4 separate regions of the Homo sapiens genome follow, and regions 1, 3 and 4 are each reported to be linked to region 2. Evidence: microRNA targets listed by miRTarBase, many of them from high-throughput screens and not tested one by one. Region 2 holds a microRNA gene; each other region holds the end of a gene's coding sequence.
The links. The annotated mature microRNA hsa-miR-5590-3p reads AAUAAAGUUCAUGUAUGGCAA and lies in region 2 at 3,520-3,540, opposite strand. An mRNA with a match to its seed (bases 2 to 7 or 8) in the 3' UTR can be bound and repressed. Matches are read on the target gene's strand: a 7mer-m8 pairs with bases 2 to 8, a 7mer-A1 pairs with bases 2 to 7 and ends in A, and an 8mer does both.

Region 1: the mRNA of PEBP1 is a reported target of hsa-miR-5590-3p. Seed matches in the 3' UTR shown: 7mer-A1 at 1,773-1,779.
Region 3: miRTarBase lists USP48 as a target of hsa-miR-5590-3p. The part of its 3' UTR that is shown has no 7-base or 8-base seed match.
Region 4: miRTarBase lists TP53INP1 as a target of hsa-miR-5590-3p. Seed matches in the 3' UTR shown: 7mer-m8 at 2,465-2,471 and 7mer-A1 at 2,967-2,973.

Annotation. Positions count from the first base shown.
Region 1 is chr12:118,143,193-118,148,857 of GRCh38, forward strand. It overlaps PEBP1 (phosphatidylethanolamine binding protein 1), which reads left to right. Exons shown (of 4, transcript NM_002567.4): 4 at 1,394-2,392. The coding sequence ends at 1,611. Among named protein-coding and RNA genes, the nearest start is that of PEBP1, 9.9 kb to the left of the region's middle.
Region 2 is chr2:134,855,728-134,861,392 of GRCh38, reverse strand. It overlaps MIR5590 (microRNA 5590), which reads right to left and starts at 3,573; the gene lies at 3,520-3,573. ACMSD (aminocarboxymuconate semialdehyde decarboxylase) reads right to left here. Exons shown (of 10, transcript NM_138326.3): 3 at 2,036-2,132. RefSeq lists a silencer at 2,268-2,468.
Region 3 is chr1:21,675,118-21,680,782 of GRCh38, forward strand. It overlaps USP48 (ubiquitin specific peptidase 48), which reads right to left. Exons shown (of 27, transcript NM_032236.8): 27 at 3,181-4,322. The coding sequence ends at 4,300. Among named protein-coding and RNA genes, the nearest start is that of RAP1GAP, 8.6 kb to the left of the region's middle.
Region 4 is chr8:94,927,177-94,932,533 of GRCh38, reverse strand. TP53INP1 (tumor protein p53 inducible nuclear protein 1) reads left to right here. Exons shown (of 4, transcript NM_033285.4): 4 at 1,806-5,357. The coding sequence ends at 2,055. It also overlaps a transcript of NDUFAF6 not described here. Among named protein-coding and RNA genes, the nearest start is that of TP53INP1, 20 kb to the left of the region's middle.

The sequences.
Region 1 (5,665 bases), not on the chromosome of region 2:
ATCTTCCCCAACAGAAACCCTGTCCCCATTGACCAACAGCTCCCCATTTCCCTTCCCCTAGCCCTGGCAGCCACCATTCCACTTTCTGTTGCAGTGTTTGTCTACTTTAGATACCTCGTGGAATTGTACAGTATTTGTCTTGCGACTGGCTAATTTCACTAATGTAATGTTCTCAAGGTTCTCTGGTGTAGCATGTGTCTGAATTTCTTTTTAAGGCTGAATAGTCCTAGAGTAACACAGGGGAGTAAAGAAAAAATAAAAGGCTGGATAATATTCTGTTGTGTGTATAAACCACATTCTGATCATCTTTTCATCCATCAGTGGACAGTCGGGTTGCTTCTGCTTCTTGGCTATTGTGAATACTGCTGCATTGAACATGGGTGTGCAAATATTTAAACAACTTTTTAAAAAATAACTTTGTTTCTGGCCGGGTGCAGTGGCTCACAGCTGTAATCCCAGCACTTTGGGAGGGCGAGATGGGTGGATCACTTGAGGTCAGGAGTTTTGCCAACATGGTGAAACCTGGTCTCTACTAAAAATACAAAAACAAAACAAAACAAAACATAACTGGGCGTGGTGGCACGTACCTGTAATCCTAGCTACTCAGGAGGCTGAGGCAGGAGAATTGCTTGAACCCAGGAGGCTGAGGTTGTAGTGAGCCGAGATCATGCCACTGCACTCCACGCCTAGGCAACAGAGTGAGACTCCGTCTCAAAAAAAAAAAAAAAACCCACTTTTTAAAAAAATAAGAGCTCATGGTACCTATTTGCATCCAGTACATCATTGAAGCTTGTAGAAAGCTGCTTAGTTAAAGTGAGGTTGGGTCACTTCGAAGTAGTCCTCCAGTTTTCTAAGCAAGTAAATTTTGGAGGTAGAAAGAAAATGTTCTCCTTTATCCTAGAGGCTCGACTGTGGTATGGTGGGCCCGGGTCATTGATTTGCTTTGTCCTTAATTGGTTGCTCCTACCTGACAGAAGTGAAATGGGTGTTCTGATGGGGGGTGGTGGGTGGTGACTTGAGAAGGTCCGGGAGCCTGAAGTGGGATGAATGAAGAGCACAGAGGCTCGTTGGGAGGCGAGGATAAGGGGGTGCAGAGGCCAGATCCCACAGGCCAGGAGAGGCTGGAACTAAGGGCTTGGGCTTGACACCAGTTACAGCAGGGGCCTAACACATTCTATTAGGTTGATGCAAAAGTAATTGCGGTTTTTGCCATTAATGTGTTAATTGCCATTAAATGTTAATTTGCACCAAATACCTGTCTGGACCCTCGGTGTCCTCCTTGTAAATGGTGTGGTCTGGGTGCCTCCATGTTGAAACATTCGATAAAAATGGATGATGTCCCCATCTCAAGTGCTGGGCTGTGTGTACATCTTCCCTCTGCCTCTCCCCACAGGCCTCCACCGCTATGTCTGGCTGGTTTACGAGCAGGACAGGCCGCTAAAGTGTGACGAGCCCATCCTCAGCAACCGATCTGGAGACCACCGTGGCAAATTCAAGGTGGCGTCCTTCCGTAAAAAGTATGAGCTCAGGGCCCCGGTGGCTGGCACGTGTTACCAGGCCGAGTGGGATGACTATGTGCCCAAACTGTACGAGCAGCTGTCTGGGAAGTAGGGGGTTAGCTTGGGGACCTGAACTGTCCTGGAGGCCCCAAGCCATGTTCCCCAGTTCAGTGTTGCATGTATAATAGATTTCTCCTCTTCCTGCCCCCCTTGGCATGGGTGAGACCTGACCAGTCAGATGGTAGTTGAGGGTGACTTTTCCTGCTGCCTGGCCTTTATAATTTTACTCACTCACTCTGATTTATGTTTTGATCAAATTTGAACTTCATTTTGGGGGGTATTTTGGTACTGTGATGGGGTCATCAAATTATTAATCTGAAAATAGCAACCCAGAATGTAAAAAAGAAAAAACTGGGGGGAAAAAGACCAGGTCTACAGTGATAGAGCAAAGCATCAAAGAATCTTTAAGGGAGGTTTAAAAAAAAAAAAAAAAAAAAAGATTGGTTGCCTCTGCCTTTGTGATCCTGAGTCCAGAATGGTACACAATGTGATTTTATGGTGATGTCACTCACCTAGACAACCAGAGGCTGGCATTGAGGCTAACCTCCAACACAGTGCATCTCAGATGCCTCAGTAGGCATCAGTATGTCACTCTGGTCCCTTTAAAGAGCAATCCTGGAAGAAGCAGGAGGGAGGGTGGCTTTGCTGTTGTTGGGACATGGCAATCTAGACCGGTAGCAGCGCTCGCTGACAGCTTGGGAGGAAACCTGAGATCTGTGTTTTTTAAATTGATCGTTCTTCATGGGGGTAAGAAAAGCTGGTCTGGAGTTGCTGAATGTTGCATTAATTGTGCTGTTTGCTTGTAGTTGAATAAAAATAGAAACCTGAATGAAGGAACTGAGTCCCCGGATGTTTTGTTCTATTGGGTATAGGTTTCATAAGTGTGAGAAGTCAAGTCTCAGGGTGAGTCGTCTCCGTGACCAGCAAGTAACAGCTGGGACTTGTTCTAGGGGCCATATGGAGGGTCTGTGCCTCTACATGTGCCATTAACCCACAGCAGGAGCAAACAGTTCAGATTTGAGGTTTCTAAAAAAAAAATCATAAAATGTGAGGCCGAGTCTTATTGCCCAAAAAGCACCTTTGCTTCAAGTGGTCCTTTTGACCCAAGAAGGATGTTCTAAAGAAGATGGCTGAAAACCTTCCCCCTTGGTGAAGTCTGGCGCGGACACCGTAACAATGCCTAAGAAGTAGCCTGCACTTCCCGTTCTGATGTGTTATCCACAGAGGCTCAGTACCAAAGAGGTGCGCAGGGTAGGAGGGTGAGAAGGTCACGGTCTCATGCCATCTGATGTACCGAAAGAAAGGAAAGGAGGTGTTTGAAGGTGCAAATCACTGTGATTTGGTCTCTGCGATGCAAAGGGGGGGGTCCTGAATCAGGCCTGACAGGTGCTAATGACTAGCCCTTCCCCATCTTTCACTGCAGTACTTTTTTCTCTGAAAAAACTTGGAAATGTTGCCTTGCTGGAAGCACATAAGGTAGATGTAAGTTTTCTTTTTTTCTTTTTTTAATTTTTTTGAGATGGAGTCTCACCCTGTCACCCAGGCTGGAACGCAGTGGAATAATCTCGGCTCACCGCAACCTCCACCTCCTGGGTGGGTTCAAGTGATTCTCTTGCCTCAGCCTCCTGAGTAGCTGGGATTACAGGCATGCACCACTATGCCCAGCTAATTTTGTATTTTTAGTAGAAAAGGGGTTTTGCCATGTTGGCCAGGCGGCTCTCAAACTCCTGACCTCCTGACCACTTTGGCCTCCCAAAGTGCTGGGATTACAGGCATGAGCCACCATGCCAAGCCTGGAAGTTTTTTTTTTTTTTTTTTTTTTTTTACTTTAGAGTTCTAAAATTCGTTTTTTTACGTAATAAGATTTTGTTGAACACAAGTTACAAAGAAAACAACTGTCAGCTGGGCGCCGTGGCTCACGCCTGTAATCCCAGCACTTTGAGAGGCCGAGGTGGGTGGATGAACTGAGGTCAGGAGTTCAAGACCAGCCTGGCCAACATGGTAAAACACCATCCCTACTAAAAATACAAAAATTAGCTGGACATGGTGGCGGGCGCTTGTAATCCCAGCTACTAGGGAGGCTAAGGCAGGAGAATCGCTTGAGCCTGGGAGGCGAGGTTGCAGTGAGCTGTGATCGCGCCATTGCACTTAAGCCTGGGTGACAAGAGCGAAACTCTGTCTCGAAAAAAAAAAAAACTGTCCTGTTGACCTTGGAAATAAATGTAAAGTCTGGGCATGGAGACTCACACCTGTAATCCCAGCACTTTGTGAGGCCAAGGTGGGGCAGATCACCAGCCTGGGCAACATGGCAAAACCCCTCTCTCTCTAAAAAAATGCAAAAATTAGCCCGATGTGTGGACTCGTTCCTGTAGTCCCAGCTACTAGGGAGGCTGAGGTGGGAGGATCACTTGAGGTCAGGAGGTCAAGGCTGCAGTAATTCCAGCTACTTGGGAGGTGGAGGCAGAAGAACTGCTTAAACCTGGGAGGTGGAGGATGCAGTGAGCCAACATCACGCCACTGCACTCCAACCTGGGTGACAGAGCGACACTCCATCTAAAAAAAAAATAGAAAAAGAAAAACATATTAATACTAACACGGAACTAAAGAGAAAAAAAAATACATATATATGAGAAGGCAGTAGTCATCTAAGAAAGAAGGGTGATGCCTTCAACTGGTATGTGATGTGAACTTCCCCAAGGGCGGCTAGGAAGGGGGTGACCCCCATTCTGAACTCAACTCTGGCCTCAAGGTCCAGCTGATAACCACCGGGCCCACTGGGTCACAAATTCCAGCTTCCTCATTTGAAAAAACATCAGGGTTGCAGGGGGTTGTCAGCCTGCCTTATTTACCTCACAGCGTTGTTGGAGGACAAAATCATCTTTTTTGGGATTAAGAGTTAATGTATGTAAATGACTAAACTTGGCCTGATTGTCATATAAGAACAAAGTACAAAAGTCCAGTTTCCTCAGGTCTGTTTCCTCACTGCAGCCTCCGCCTCCTGGGTTCAAGCGATTCTCCTGCCTCAGCCTTCCTAGTCCCCCTGCCTTCCTTACTGCCTCCTCAGGCAGGTACTAGGAGGAGTAGGACAACTCTGTCCATAGCAGGTGTTTGTTAGGAGCAGGGACCCACATCCCTGCTTCCGGGTAACTGCCCTGGGACACATCCTTGACAAACTTGCGCAGTGGGACTTTTTTTTGAGACCGAGTCTCATTCTGTTGCTCAGGCTGGAGTGCAGTGGTGCCATCTTGGCTCACTGCAGTCTCCGCCTCCCGGGTTCAAGCGATTCTCCTGCCTCAGCCTCCCGAGTAGCTGGGATTATAGGCGCCCACCACCACGCCCGGCTGATTTTTGTATTTTTAGTAGAGACGGGGTTTCACCATGTTGGCCAGGCTGATCTCAAACTCCTGACCTCAGATGATCCACCCACCTCGATCTCCCAAAGTGCTGGGATTACAGCTGTGAGCCACCGAGACCTTTTCTAAAGATAGCACCTACAATCTCAGACATAGGGCCCTTTCCCAAACTAGCTAGACATTTCTCACCACAGTGAGAAATGGATGAAAGAGGCTACAGGAAGCTTTTCTACCCTACTGAAGGTGGAATACTCCTTTGGGTATAGATCAGACAGGTCTCGATTCAGACCCCACCCTGCCACTGGAGTGAGCTTATTTCTTCATTTGTGAAAGCCTAGTGTTCCATCATGTGGCAAGCGTAAGCACGCCATCGACGTTATCTGTTTCTCTAACCCTTTCCAGTATTATTTTCAGATGTACCTAATATAGAAACTCCAATGAACAGAGGTACTTAGGAAACACAATTATCACTGAGTGTGATGTTACAGAAGGTTTTGTAGTTGGGATTAACCCATGTTGATAATTATTTATGAGTATACCTTTCTGCTTTAGCCTATCAGAGTGAACATGACTGGTCACATTTGTCTCCGATACATGAACATCCTGTAGGAAACAAGAGTGATCTTTAGGTCATCATATTCTTTTCTTTTGAAACAGAGTTTCACTGTTGTTGCCCAGGCTGGAGTGCAGTGGTGCCATCTTGGCTCACTGCAACCTCCGCCTCCCACGTTCAAGCGATTCTCCTGCCTCAGC
Region 2 (5,665 bases):
TTCTCTCAGGGACAGCCAAGGAATGCAACACACAACAAAAACCAAAGTTGACACACACACTTCGTTTACCGTGCAGCCGTAAGTAGTGGTTTCTGACACCAGTCATTCAAGTCTCATGCTCACTAGTTTTCTCCTTGAAAAGGCAGGTCCTTGCTGCAGCTTCACATTTACTACAAAACCTTGCTCTTTGCTGTAGGTCAGGGAAGCATGTTCTTTCTCCAGCTCTCCTCCCACTCCAATATACTTTTAGAACAGAGGGATATATGCTATATTCTGTGGAGTACTCTACAGAGGTGCTGCAGGTTTTCTGCAAAGTTCAATTTAAATGCCACTTAAATATATTTTTAATTAAAAAATTTTTTTAGAGACAGGGTCTTGCTCCACCACTAGGCTGGAGTGTAGTGGTGCAATCACAGCTCACTGCAGCCTCAAACTCCTGGGCTCAGGTGATCCTCCCACCTCAGCCTCCTGAGTAGCTGGGATCACAGGTGCATGCCACCACACCTAGATAATTTTTTTTTTTTTTTTTTTTTTTTGTGGAGACAGGGTCTCACTGTGTTTCCCAGACTGATCCTGAACTCCTGGGCTCAAGGGATCCTCCTGACGTGGCCTCCTAACATGCTGGGATTATAGGCATGAACTACCACACCTGGCTCTATTTTTAATTGTTAAAAAATATATAAAGCAAAACCTGGACAAAGGTATCTACAACAAATTCCAACATGCTGGAGACCACCTACTCACTTTAGGCTGACCGTTTGATTCCTTTTTTGCAGACCTTGGAATAAAATGTCTCCTGCCATCTCTTTGTATATTTGAACTTCTTACAATTTGTCTTTGATTAGGAAGGTGGTAGTGCTAAACTGCTCTTTTATTTGTGTGTTTGAATTGTTTCTTTTCTGGTTGAAATCTTCCACCAATGTAAACACTTAGTTCTGACAATGTCAGTGGTGGTCAGTTCCCCATCACAGCCCATGGACACAGCCCACATGTGTCTGGAAGGCTCAGGCATTTTCTTGGAGCATGTTCTCCTCAGGTGGCACAGTCAACCAGGCAGTCACAGGTGAAGCATAATGTGGCCATCATGTCATACTTTAGATAGACTTGGAAATTTCATTTTGTTTTGTTTTGAGACAGAGTCTCACTTTGTTGCCCAGGCTGGAGTGCGGTGGTGCAATGTCGGCTCACTGCAAACTCCGCCTCCTGGGTTCAAGCGATTCTTGTGCCTTTGTCTCCTGAGCATCTGGGATTACAGGCACGCGCCAGCATGCCTGGCTAATTTTTGTATGTTTAGTAGAAATAGGGTTTTGCCATGTTGGCCAGGCTGGTCTCAAACTCCTGACCTCAGGTGATCCACCTGCCTTGGCCTCCCAAACTGTTACTGTGCCTTTTCTGAAATTCTTTTAAATTGTGAGGACTTGTTTGATTTTTAGATATAAGGTAAAAAGTGCAAGATGTTCTTATAGCTTTTTAGCAATTCAGCTTTGAAACGAACACTTCCTAATTCTCTTCTTTCAAATTTCTGGATTGATTTTATTGTAGTGTATTCTGAGATTACACAATTAACTATTTTTAACTGCTTCCATTTCCAACCCTGATGTGTCAGTGGGAATGTTCTGTGTATGATGCACCGAGACAAACTACAGAAAGAAATTGGATCTTAAGTGTTATTAAGCAGGCAATTGTCATTCTTAGTTTTGTGATTTCCAGTTTTTACTATTTTAATTGATTTTATAATAAGTAAATACTATACATTTGAACTAATTTTTAAAAATAATAAAATGCCATTTTTATCTTTTTCATGATATAGCATTCTATTTTAAAACAGGGTATAACTCATATGAAACATTTTGAATCCACACTCTAAAAGCATTGTAGTGGAAGGCCCTGTCCCTCCCACAGTGAAGCTGGAACAGCCTGTCCTGGCAGAGAAAAGGGGGTCAGAAGTTACCATCACATAAAGTTGTCAGCAAACTTTAAGGGCAGACATTGCTTTTACATCAGATGCTAACATTGGTAGCACTTCTCATCGTACCTTTTTGGTCCATTTCTCTAATACGAACTTCTGGATCCCAGCAATTCTCTCGCACCACTCTGAAGACTTTCCCATCTTTCAACAACTTTGCTTCTCCCTGGGGCAGAAAACCCACATTACTAAAATGCAACCTAAGACCACTTGGACTAATCTTTCCTCATGTGCTTTAGAACGTATTTCTTCCCTAATATTTGAAAAGATTTTTACTTAATCCTTGTGGAAGTAGAAATCAGTAATTTAACAAAAATCAGCTTTCTTTCCTCATGCTTTTCTTTGGCCTAGAGTTGAAGGGGTGTGCTCTGTGGGCGTCAATGGCTGGACACAGAGATAGCAAGGTTGAGGTTATGTTTCTCTGGGCTGCCTGACTGAGAATGGCTGATCACCTTGCTGATCTGAACCCCTGGCTACTAGATACAAGAGGATGGCCCAGCGTCTGGAAAATGGTAGTTCTATAACATTTAGAATTGAAAAGAACCTTTGAGATAGACCACCTAGTCCAACCCTCTCATTTTATGGAGAAGCAATATATGGATAATGGCAGTGTATGATTTGTCAAACAGAGCAGGGCCCACTAGTGTCAATACCTGTGGGAGGAGGTGGGCAAAGAAGTCAGTCTGGTAGCAAGCACAAAATTTGGTACTGAGCTACTTCTTCCACCAGGCATCATGCTTGCCTGGGTACACAGCAATAATTTTTATACATTTTAAATGACAAATAAAAATTGCATATATTTATGCTGTACAACATTATCTTTTGATATATGTGTGCATTGTGGAATGGCTAAATCAAGCTAATTAAAATGTCCATTACTTCACATACTTATTTTTTTTGAGGTGATGACACTTAAAATCTATTCTTTTAGCAATTTTCAAGTATACAATACATTTTTATTAACTATAGTCACCATATTGTGCAATAGATATGAACTTATTCCTCCTGTCTAACTGAAATTTCATATCCTCTGACCTTCTCAATCTCTCCCCACCCCTTCAGCCTGTGGTAACCACCATTTTTCTTGATGCTTCTGTGAGTTAGACTTTTTTAGATTCTACATATAAGTACAGTATTTGTCTTTTTATGTCTGGCTTATTTCACTTAACATAATATCCTTCAGTGTTATTCATGTTGTTGTAAATGATAGAATTTCCTTTTTATAAAGGCTGAATAGTATTCCATTATGTATATATGCCACATTTTCTTTATCCATTCATCCACTGATGGACACTTAGATTGATTCCATATCTTGGCTATTTTGAATGATGCTACATTGAACATGGGAATGCAGATATTTCTTCAACATACTGGTTTCATTTCCTCTGCATATATAGCCAGAAGTAGAATTGCTGGATCATATAGTAGTTCTATTTTTACTTTTTCTCAGGAAAACATATGATCATATCAATAGATACAGACAAATTTCTACATCCTTTTATGACTTTAAAAAACCTCAATAAATTAGGTATAGAAGGAATAAAGCTGTGGGATTGCCATACATGAACTTTATTGTTGATCAACACAATAAAGTCTATGTATGGCAATCCCACAGCTAACATCATACTTGATGGTGAAAATGATGAAAAGTTGAAAACTTTTTCTCTAAGATCAGGAACATGACAAGGGGGCTCATTTTGCCACTTCTCAACATCATAAAGGAAGTTCTAGCCAGAGCAATGAAGCAAGAAAAAGAAACAAAAGTCACCTAAATCAGAATGAAAGAAGTTAAATTGTTTTTGTTTGCAGACAACATGGTTTTATACATAGAAAACCCTAAATATTCCACCAAAAAACTGTTAAACTAATAAATTGGGTAACGTTGCAGAATACAAAATTGATATATAAAAGCCCATAGCATTTCTGTATGTTAACAATCTGCAAAAGATATCAGGCAATCCCATTATTTATTTATTTATTTCTCGAGATAGAGTCTTGTTCTGTTGCCCAGACTGGAGTGGAGTGCAGTGGTATGATCTCGGCTCACTGCAGCCTCTGCCTCCCAGGTTCAAGCAATTCTCCTGCCTTTGCCTCCCAAGTAGCTGGGATTACAGACATGCGCCACCACGCCCGGCTAATTTTTGTGTTTTTAGTAGAGACGGGGTTTCACCATGTTGGCCAGGCTGGTCTTGAACTTCTGACCTCATGATCCACCGGCCTCAGCCTCCCAAAGTGCTGGGATTACAGGCATAAGCCACTGCTCCCAGCATTAGGCAATCCCATTTAAAATAGTATTTAAAAATACTTAGGAATGAATCTAACCAAAAAGGTGAAAGATCTGAAAACTATAATACATTGATGAAAAAATTAAAGAAGACACAGACGAATGGAAAAACATCCCATGTTCGTGGATTGAAAAATTGATATTGTTTAAATGTCCATACTACCTAAAACAATCTATAGATTTAATAAAATGCCCCCCAAAATTCCAATGACATTTTTACAGAAATAGAAAAAAAAACCATACATTTCATGTAAACCACAAAAGATCTCAAATAGTCAAAGCAATTTGGAGCAAACAGAACAAAGCTGGAGGAACTAAAAACCTTTTGCACAGTAAAGGAAACGATCAACAGAGTAGAGAGACAGTTTATGGAACAGGAGAAAATATTTGTGAACCATATATCTGATAAGGAGTTACCATCCAAACTATATAAGGAACTCAAAGAACTCAATGGCAAGAAAACAAATAACTGGGTGAAAAAAGGGGCAAAGGACCTGAAAAGACATTTCTCAGAATAGATATACAAATGGCCAATAGGTATAAGAAAAAATGTTCAACTTCACTAATCATTGAGAAATGAGATATCATCTCATACTTGTTAGGATGGCTGTTATCAAAAAGACAAAAGATAATGTGTTGATAAGGATGCGGAGAAAAAGGAACCCTTGTATGCTCTTATTTGGTAACTGGTACAGCCATTATGGAATACACAACTTTTTAATACTCAGAGCAGGGGACCAAACTAAATGGTTGTGCAGAACATGGCAGTGGCATCTACGTTGGGCCTCCAGTTTGTGATTCCTAAAGAAAAGGGGAAGAACTAGGGTAGGCCCTGGAAATAAAATTGCCTGAATTCAAATTCTTGTTCTGCCACTTACTATGTGGTCTTGAGCAAGTTAAACAATATCTTCAAGCTTCAGTTTGTTTATCTTTAAAATAGGGATGATAATGACTTACCTTAAAAAATTAATGTGACTTACATTAAAGGGATCATGTCAGCATGAAATAAGATAATCCATATAAAGCGCTTAGTGGAGTATCTGACACATAAGTGTTATTATGGTTATTTGTTATTAATGTTGTATAACTAGGGGCTAGACAGTGTTCCTCTGCTTTGAGGGCACACCACCTTTGGTGGTGCTTCAGGGCCTCAAGGTTACCTTTGGGCCCCATAGAATGTCCAAGTGGGTGTGCAATGATCAAAGGCTTTGAGCTCTGCTTGGTGGAGTCCTCTGCTCTCCTCCTCCTCCTCTTGGCTTGATCATGAATTGCATCCAAGGCTTCATCCTTCTACTCCATAGACAAGACATCCTTCTACTCCATCTCCTGCATGAAGAAGTCTGGATGCTTTTCACCTTTAAGTGCTGTAGCCTGTTCATTTTGCACATATATGAGGAAGACTTCAGATCCACATT
Region 3 (5,665 bases), not on the chromosome of region 2:
ATCAAAACAACTGAAGCTGCCCCTTTGGGGCAGAAACTGCCCATCACGGAGACATAAATCTTCAACATGCATTCTAAGCGTGTTTCAAATACCTTTCGACATGACCCTGCAAAAAAAACACCGAATTGAGAAGGCTTGCAGTTTGGCCATTGGCTTCATTATTCTTATGGGCCAGGAGAAAAGATTTATGTGACAGGATGGTCGAACACCTGTCTAGTTATCATTTTAGTTGGAAGGGCTTGAAGTAAAAGGTAGTTTCTAAAGTTCTCAGAGAAGATGCTCCAGGTAGCTTTGCTAGGTGGTTACAAGGCCTCTTTTTGAAGACTTGCAAAAGAGATTCCAACAGCATTTCCTCAGAAAGGCAACAGTTCTTCTAAATGCAAAGAAAAATACAAAGCCTTTTACCTCAACAATATTTATTACTGTTTAATCCTCTGAGTGTAGTAAACAAAAATAGCAAATACTGCTATTTTGAGAGATGAAGAAATTAAGGTAAAGCAAGATTAAGTCACTTTTCTTGGTTACAAGGTAAATGGTGAAATTATCTGTAACACAGGTGGCCCAACTTCTACAACTCCACACTTTCAACACTTGCCTGTATGTTTATGTGCTATCTGGATAGCTAGCAGACTCCTTAGCCCAATTAACAGCCAGAATGGAAAAAAAAAAAAAAAAAAAATCCAAGGTTTGAGATATATGGGATGGAGAAGTGGTTTTGTCTGCCAATGAGACTGTCTACCTGGCACACACTACCTGACACAGAAATGTTGCTCAGGGAAATCAACAAAGTGCTACCTACCATTTTACAAATGTTTATAATTTGTACTTTAATGAAAAATAGAGGGTTCGAATAATGTTGATAAATCCCCAGCCAGTATTTCTGCCTACAGAATGTCTAGGAGATGGGTGTGTGTGTGTGTGTGTGTGTGTGCGCGCGCGCGTGTGTGTGTGTTTTGGGTGGGGGTGGTGATGCCAGCTTTCAGAAGTAGAAATGTTGTTGACAAAACCCTGTACTCTGGGGTGGGGGTGGGAGTATGGGGCGTTATCACAGACATGCACATTTTTTTTTTGTGACAAGGTCTCACTCTGTCGCCCAAGCTGAGTGCAGTGGTGTGATCACAGCTCACCGCAGCCTCGACCTCCTGGGGTCAAGCAATTATCCTGCCTCAGCCTCCAGAGTAGCTGGGACCACCGGCATACCTGGCTAATTTTTGCTTTTTTATAGAGATGAAGTCTCACTATGTTTCTCAGGCTGGGAAAATCTTCTTAAAATGAAAACGCTGGCTTTTAATCTGCATGCACTCTGTTCGCAGTCCCCTATTAACACTGAATGAGCTGAGGACTAAAGTACCCAAGAGAAAGGATATGATTCTGCCCCATGATTCGGTAACAGGAAAGACAGGCTTTCTTGCTCATTTCGCTTCAGCGGTTTGTTTAGACAGAGATAAATCATCCCTTGGGTTTTTAAAACAGGTTATTCAACCTGAGCATTAGATTCCAATATTAACCAGAGTCTGATGAACAGATCTATGACCACATAGACCAACCAAAAGCACATTTAAAATAACCAAAAAATTCACTATGGATTATGCTCCCACAGAAATAAAGGGACACTCATATCTTTTAAATTTGGCAGGAAGGTAACAGTAATTCTAAACAATAGAGTTCATAAATACACAGAAAGATACTTACTCCCCAGGAAATGAAGACACCCAAATGCAGCCTATATTTCAGTTCGTGGTGACAATCTGTACCAGTGTAGTATGCTGAACACATTCGTTTCAGATTAAAGAATGGTCAGAAATATCAAGGGGAAAAGACCCAAGCTTCATAATACCTTATACCGGAGACTGATCTAATATAAAAAAGTACACATGCATGGCATTAGAACCCCAACACAAAGAGTCTCTGAACTTTTCACAGTCCAGAAGGCAAATGGACTCCATCTATTCATAATTACAGACGAAACGAGAATCGGGCTTTAGGTCATACCCTTTACCTGTTTTTCCCTGTACCAAGTGAGAAGGGTGGCAATGCAAAACCATTCAATACAAGCATACGTTTCTTTGCAACTCTGCCTACTATGGGTGGGAGAGGCCCCAAGCCCAGGGTTTCAAAGAGTACAGGAGTGGCCTGTGGATGCAGATTCCGATTCAGCGGGTCTAGGGCCTGAGCTCCTGCCTTGGTAATAAAGCTTCACAGTGTCACTGGAGCCGCTGGGCTGCAGTTACTTTCAGCAGTGCTGGCAGAACAAGGCAAGTTGTCAGAGCAGGAGGAAGATGACCCTGAGCCAAGGGCAGACTCTTGCAGCATCACCTGCTCACTCGGTGCCCACCCCACCCCTGGACAGAGATAATAAAGAAGCCAGTACTCAGAGCAGGTACCACCAGCCTGAAAGATTTACAAAAGGCTGTTATTTCGTAGCATTGCAGGAGGAAAAAATACCCAAGTAACAAATTTCAAAACTGTTATCAACAGCAAATTGGGGAAAATATATCAGATTTCTGGGGGCTGCTAACATGTTTATGTCAATCCCCAAAAAGAACCTTCTCTGGCCAACAAGCTTCTTTGTAAGGAAAAGGAAGTGGCTTCAATCAAGCATTGTGCGAACTTTTATAAAAGTCTTTACCTTGGGAAAGAAGAAGTTTGTGTTATTAGTTTTAGGCTCCTGCATTCATTTCTTTGGAGCTAATAAAACAATGAGATCTAAAAATCAGGATCCATCAGCTCAACTTCAAGTCCTTCCCCTGTGCCAACCTCAAGGCCAGAACAGTTGGTCCCTTGGTTCCACTCCTAGGATGGTTTCTCAGGGGGCTGTGTGCAGCTCTCACCTTCCCCCATAGATAGGCTCATTAGAGACCCCCTGCCTCCTCAGGGGACACAGACTGAAGACATTAGAAACACAGAGGGGAAACACAAACACGAAGTTAGAATTTTACCAAATGGCCGTAATTACTCTGACAAAAGGAGCTATTCAAAAGGGATGCTGCCAAGGTTATCGGGTCTCAAATCAAAATCTGCCTTCCCCATCCATGATCTGAGTTCACATTTTCATGAAAGGGGGAAAAAGCCTTGCACAAACCCAAGGCCAAGAAAAGTGTTAACAAGAGAGATGCCTAAGCTAGCATCTCAGCCACAAACTTACACAGACGGACTCAACAGAGAAAACTTTTTTTTTTTTTTCAAAGGAAAAACTCCAGTCTTAAGTTCAATTAAAAAAACCCCTTCAATATTCTTAAGAATATTGCTTCGGTTACGTGTTGCTAAGAATGATAATCCTGAGTTGGATGGACAGCACATCCATATACTTTTTTCCTTTTTTAAACAATGATCTAAGAGACCCTCTCAGGGCATTTTGGAATAATGCTTTCAAAAAGAGAACTGAGGTCCAAGAAACAGTGACATGGAGGACAGGAAGAACAAATTTTATAGAAACCTTGTGTTATCCAAATGTACTTCAGTCTGATTTACTCTTCTGATAGGTAGTCAGATTTTTTATTTTCAAACGTGCCAGGTACATTTCCCACTTTTGAATAACAGCAAAACCGGAAGAGGATGCTTTCACACATAATAAATGTTCTCCATCCTTTCTGAAATGCACCAAAGCAAAAAGCCTCTGAAGTCAAAACATGAGACATAATTCCTTGCTCATTGCAGGAGACATGCAGGTGCCCCCTCCTTTACCCAATACCAAGAGACAGACGGCCGGGCAGGTGTAAGGCGGGTGGCGCTGCAGCTGACATGGAGAAGAGTCTAAATCTGAAGACACTTTTCCACACTTAGGACAAGTTCTTCACTTTCATGCTTTATTGAAAGTAGAATATGAATCAAAGACAGGCATTGGTAAGCAGGTTATGTCTCTAAAATTACTTTTCGTTCAGAGCAGAATGTTGTCCCATCTACTTGATACAATCCTTTATGGACCAACGCATCTGGTATGAAACTCGAGCAAGGAAATATAACAGAACTTTATTCCCCTCCCACGACTATAAATCTCATATGTAAACATGATTTACTATTACTGCTACTAAACTTGTTCCGTCTTTACTTGCCCCCTCCCACCCACCACCCCCCTTAAATATAAAATTGGAAACATTTCCTTCAAGTCTGATGTCCATCAGTGCAATCTGCTTTATTTGACATAAGGCATTTGGGACAGTCACGTTTGAATGGATTTCTGCCTTTTGGAAGGGGCATGTAATGGTTTAATTCTTAAATCCACCTTTGCTTTAATGCCCTAACATGTCAAACTCCTCTTCCCCTCTGGTCATTTCTTAGCAGTCAGCAAGTATTCAAAGATTAATGTCCAAGAAGACCAGTACCTGGGAAAAGAAACACACGTGGAGGGATAGTTGTGAACTACAGATTAAAAGTTCATGGATTCCATTTACCAAGAACACATCATCAACAGGGAGCATCAAATTTAATAAATGAACACAGTCGCACCTTGGTGTGGGAGGATAAGACAAAATACCAGCAGACTCCAGGCTCTCCGCTAAATCACATTTTTGTTGAAAGCCATGTGCTTCCTAAGTGTATCTTCACACAAACTAACCAGATTTTATTGATTCTTTCATTTAATGACCATTCTTCTTTTCTGAGAGTTTCACTCTTGTCGCCCAGGCTGGAGTGCAGTGGTGCAATCCTGGCTCACTGCAACCTTATCTCCCAGGTTCAAGCATTCTCCTGCCTCAGCCTCCCAAGTAGCTGAGATTACAGGCGCACGCCACCATGCCCGGCTAATTTTTGTATTTTTAGTAGAGATGGGGTTTCACCATGTTGGCCAGACTGGTCTCGAACTCCTGACCTCAAGTGACCCACCCGTCTCAACCTCCAAAAGTGCTGGGATTACAGGCGTGAGCCACCATGCCCGGCCAATGACCATTTTTCATAAAGACGTTTTTTGCTTTGTTTTGACCCCATCAGGAGTCCCTTTGTAATGGTAGCATGCAGACAACACAGCTGCAGCAAGAGGAAGACTTTATTTTGGCCAGTAGATTTGTCTCTCATTTGCTTTAGCAAGGAATAGCTGGTATGTGATTCAAAGTCATTCCTTAGAAAATCACAACCTGCCAGGGGCTTCTGGAGTGGCCAGCAAAGAATCAAGACAGCAACAGGAAAATCCGAAAACGTCAGAGGTCTGTATTTGATGACTTCTTGAATATTATCGGTGTGCACAACTACATGGCCCAGATGTAGTACGAGCACCACCGTGTCTCCTCTTGAAGTAATAATCCAACAAATGCCTTAATGCTAAGTGATTAATTAAATCTTTTCACTGGACTTGATAAAACCTGACAAATTCTTGTGCCACTAATTCTTAATAGTTACACACTGTTTTGCTCTAGGAGGGGACTTGATAGGAAGAACTGGGAAAAGGTTAAAAATAAATCTTGAAATGCCACTAGCTAATTTCCCAACCTCCCATAAAATGAGAAAGGGAAGGCCAAATGGACATCTGGCAAGAAACAGTTCTAACACAAAAGCCCCAGCTGAGGCCCCATTTGAGGCCTGAGTGTTGAAAAAGATAATGAAGAAGCTTGAGTAAGAAATGCATTTAACTAAAATTAATTTCAGTCATGAGACTCAGATTGGATTAAAATTTAAAATCAAATTATAGCCTTCGCTTTAACAGAAAATTACAGGATGACTCTGACATTCATGA
Region 4 (5,357 bases), not on the chromosome of region 2:
CCGTGCCCGGCAGGGATTTGAAATTCTTATAAGGAAGTCTTGCTAAATCAAGGTGGAAATCAGGTGTTACCAAAATTAGGCTAGCTTTGTAGTAAATATCTGTTTTCTTAGCAGGAAATGAATCATATGTCTTTCAGAAGTCAGATTGCTTCCATTGTGTCTATCATTGGGGATATTACCATAAAGCACAGAAAATTGAGGTGCTTTGTAATTACAGTGGGCTTCAGGGTATACATTTCATTGCATTTTAGCCTTTATAAGTATTGTTTTTGAAGGTTTTACATGTTATCTTAAGCACATGTACGTGCCTTTAATGGCACATAGTAAACCAGTTTTAATAAAAGTTGACCACGTCCTAATAGTAAAGTTACAATAGCATTTTAAATCTTACTAGTGATTTAATAGTTCACCATTTAACATTTGTAGGGCCAGGAAAAGCTGCTTATAAGACTCACGGGCACAGAGTAAGTATATTCACTTTGAGACTGTGTGATATATGTATGCATAGGGAGGCAAAGGACCCAAATGCTGACCTTTTAAAAATGACTTTCTTTCTTTTTTTGAGATGGAGTCTCACTCTGTCACTCAGGCTGGAGTGCAATGGTGTGATATTGGCTCACAGCAGCCTCCACCCCCCAGATTCAAGTGATTCTCTTGTTTCAGCCTCCCAAGTAGCTGGGATTACAGGCTTGCATCACCACACCTGGCTAATTTTTGTATTTTTAGTAGAGATGGGGTTTCACCATGTTGGCCAGGCTGGTCTTGAACTCTATTAAGGTGATCCACCTGCCTCAGCCTCCCAAAGTGTTGGGATTACAAGAGCGAGCCACAGCGCCTGGCCTAAAAATAATTTTCTTTATATTAACTTTTTTCTATTAGTTTCTTATTGTGGCCTCTTAAAATTCTACTTTAAAAAAATTTTATGTGTGTGTGTGTGTGTGTGTGTAATAAATATGTGTGTTTCCTCAAGTGATTTTAGGCAGAATGTGTCACTGCCCTTCCTGTGTAAAATAACTCTTAAAAATCATACAGCTCTTCATGTTACGTGTTGACATAGTTTACAGCAATCCTACTTGATTAGCTTTTTTATATGGAAAACATAATCATACTGTGTGTAGCCAATTTTAAGATTGTGTTATTCAAGAGTCTTATATTGCCATGTAAATACCATCTCAAAATGTGCCCTGTTGTGAGATAAAGAAAAACTTAAGAGATTTATTCTATTAAGCTATAGCTTTTTATCTAGAAAAATGGCAAATGAGTAGAATTTCCATATGCAAATTTCTATTAAATAAAGATTTAAAGCATGTTTCCTGGAACATTTTACTTATAGACAGGAAATGTCTTGTGAAGGTATTGTGAGCACACTGCTTTCTGATCAGTAAAATTTGGGAATTAAAATATTTTCCTTTTAAGATTATGGTGAGAATTAAAATATATATTTGCAAAAGAATTGGCAAATGCAGATATTCAATAAATGTTAGCTCCCCTCCCAGACAAGCTTATATAAATGTGTGTGCTCCGTAAATGAAATTCAAAGTTTAAAGTGTATTTTTAGAAAACAGTCTACTTAGTGAGCCATCTGGGGCTTATATGGCATCTTTCTAGTAACAGTTGGCTCTCCTTTCCACCACTATCAGTCAGTGGGGTCACAGAATAATAAACTTGTCTGTCAGCCATGAAACACAAGCTCTCATTCAGCCATAAACAAATTAGCGTGGCAAATTGAATTGCTAAGTAACTTTTCCAGTTTTGTTAATAACATACTCTGTTATTTAATACATCCCCACTTTTTTCTGTTTCAGAGTGGAAGCTCAAAATGAAATGGGGCAGCATATTCATTGTTATGTTGCAGCTCTTGCTGCTCATACAACTTTTCTGGAACAACCCAAGAGCTTTCGCCCTTCCCAGTGGATAAAAGAACACAGTGAAAGACAGCCTCTTAACAGAAATAGCCTTCGTCGCCAAAATCTTACCAGGGATTGCCACCCTCGGCAAGTCAAGCACAATGGCTGGGTTGTTCATCAGCCCTGCCCGCGTCAGTACAATTACTAATAGTTTCAAGTTTTGTTGGTTGGTTTCTCTTGGTTTGTGCTTACATGTATGGATGTGTGTATATGTACAGTGAAAATGTTGTCTCTTTACAACCAATTGATAACCAATCACATAGTTTTATCAGTGTATTTAGACACTATCTTGAAAATCAGATTTATATGCTGTGTATCACATAATGCCTTGCCTTTAACATTTACTTTTTTTGTACACTTTTTCAGATTATTTCTGGAAACATATCAATATAATTACAGTGTTTGGGGGTGTCTTTAAATATATTAGGTTATACATTAGTCAGCATTTTAAAGACATTTCTTCCCAAGTACGAGAATAGGCATCTTTCATTTTCATTTTATTTTGTATTACTTAATCTTTTAAGCAAGCAAAAATTTATTCTCAGGGTCAGCTGTACACTTTATTGACCAGTACTTGATAATCTCTCTGTATATGATGAATACATTTTTACACACTAACATTAGCATTAACAGGTGATAGTTGCCATGGATATAATGGAATTATGGCTGGACTTTCTTTTGAAAGAAAACTTGATGTATTCTGTGTGTATGGTTTTTCCCCAGATTAGTCATACAGTTCATTTGGAATTCAGGTACATTAAGCTTTAGTGAAGAGTGCATGCAGTAATTCCAATGTGACTGCATGACGTGGTACAGACATTACAGGTGTTGTAGACAGAGGCACTTGTCTCGTGCAGAGGGATTAAATTAGACCTGTGAGATTATATTTGGAAAAATTCATGTCTGTAACTAACCCATTAGTGCAGTATTTAATTTGTTACTATTCCTTCCCGCCAATTCTGTCCACTCCTCACCTCGCATCAGCTATAAATTTGGAAGTACTTGTCCAGGCACTCAAGTGACTTCATATTTCTCTCTGCCCATGGGAAAAGAGATAGGCTTTATATTTCCACAGAGTGAAAAATCCTCTGTCATGGAGCCTGTCCTGCCAAGTGGCAAGAGTGTGGGGACTGTCTGGTGATGATGTCTTTCATGGCATCTGAGTGAAGAGTGACAGGTTGGCTCAACTTTTTTCTTTTTTTTTTTTTAATTGCCTTGTATTGTAAGTATTCTTCCCTGCAGTCCAAGTGACTTTTCATTTTTTGTTTTAACTTCAGGCAAAATCTTTAACCACTCTGGCCTCTGTTTCCCCCACCAACGGGGAGCAGTGACATTTACCTCCCTCACAGAGTCACTGTGAGGATTCTATACTGATTTGAAGTGGAGCTGTTCAGAACTGAACCTTGTAGGAAATTCCAAGGGCCTTTCTACTGAATCTGGTGATGGGGTGGGGCCGTGGCACTTTCTCTGCCACAGCTGTTCTTCACAGTGTTGGTGCTAATGAGGCCAGGGTGCAGGGTTCGATTCACACGTAGGCCAGTTAACTTAGAGAAAATCTATTTCCTTACCTCTAGCCAGTCACTTCCTTTTTCCGCAGTTGTGATGGGTTTTGCTGAGCCATCCACTCTGACTGATTTCCTCTGAAGTAAACATATTTACAATCCAAAGCAATTCTACTGACAGAAGTGTTGCCTTCATAATCAAACAGCTTGTTTTTCCATCTCCTCTGCAACCCTAATTAAATGAGTACAGGTCTACAAAATGTTTTCAAGGAGAAAAGCAGCATATCCTTAAGTGAAGTATTATATTTTTCAATAACCCTGTAGTGGCTTGATGCAGGGAACCCTGGGGGACTTTCAGCGAAGAGCTGTGCTCTTTTCTGACTAGATTAGAGCGTTTGGAGTGGAAGACGTCAAATGTGTAGTGAGATGGAGGTTTTACATTGTTCTTCTACTGGCTGTGATGAAGTGCCAGAATGTCTCTTTAGAACAAGAGTTAGATTCCCCCTTTCTCCTTATTGCCCCTTCCGTTTTGACTTCCCCTTTATTTATTTGTTGTCTAATTAGGGGCCAAGTCTGTAAAGTTTTGTCAAAGTGAGTTAGAAGTTGTTTTCTCTTACTATTTGTGTTTACCAGAGTTGGGAGATAAGATAGTTTCCATGAAGGTGTGTATGTTTTATACGATGTTTGTTATAGGGCCATGCATTGGTAACTTGAAAATAGACCAGCTTAATGTCTTCAGGATGTAAAACTCTGAATACACGGCGTCTCTTTTTCATACATTGCATGTAAGTTGTTAGTACCTCACAAGCTACAGAAGTTCAGCCATGAGATTTTGTTTGGCAACATGAACAGATTTGTGTATAACTGCAATGGCCTTTTTTTCCAGATTTCCTTATTGACTTTTTGTTTGCCTTACCTGGGGCTAGTTTTTTATGCTTTGTACCTAGAAAACAAAAAATTACATTCGTTGGGCTTTTTTTCAAGGTTGGGATTACCACACCACCTGGAATATCATACTGTGGTTTCTGCCTAAAATTGGCACATGTAAGTATTGAAGAAAATGGTTATATAATTCAGTTGAAACTCTTGGTTATTAGATGTTAGGCATCTCCTGTATGTAAGACACAAGGCCAACCACAACACAGAACGATGTTGACCTGTTAAGTATTCTCTGAAACATGGCCAAAATGCATTTTATGAGCTTTTTTTTTTGCTATTGTAAATATTAGTGGTTTACAATGCGCTTTAGACATATTTCTTTAAAATGCAAGCAGTGAGAAATAAGACCTCTCTGAATTAGTAGCTCTAAACTGTTAACATAGAATGTTACTTGGAAAAAGTCTGGAATATGTGGTGTACACAAGCAGTGCTTCGTGAATGAGTTTCTTAGCTTTTATAGTGCGCCATGTTTCTCAAAGTTTGTTTTTGTTGACAAAACATTTTATAATATATATCTTATGTTTATTTTTTTTCTCAACTAATTGTGTACTGCACTGTAAGGTGAAAATTAGCCATCCATTATTTATCTTCTGTGGCAATGCATTTATATGGTTGATTGGGTGGGGAATTTTTTGCAGAAAGATGCAAAGTGATTGGGTTTTCGACTTCCTATCGCAGGGAGCTTTTAAGAAATATTAATTTCCTATACATTTTTCCAATCCCCATGCAAACTGTTCCTGTTTACATACCTTCTCTGTTGTATCAGTACTTTGAGTGAGAAGACAGTTTATTTAAAACTTGAGCAGGCTGTTCAGCATTGTTTCTGCTTCTGAAATCTGTATAGTACACTGGTTTGTAATCATTATGTCTTCATTGAAATCCTTGCTACTTCTCTTCCTCCTCAATGAAATACATTATATATTATCTTTATGTACTCTTAAGAAAAACGAGCAAGGAAGAGTATCTTCATTATTCTCATTTTCTCTGAGTTGGAAACAAAAACATGAAG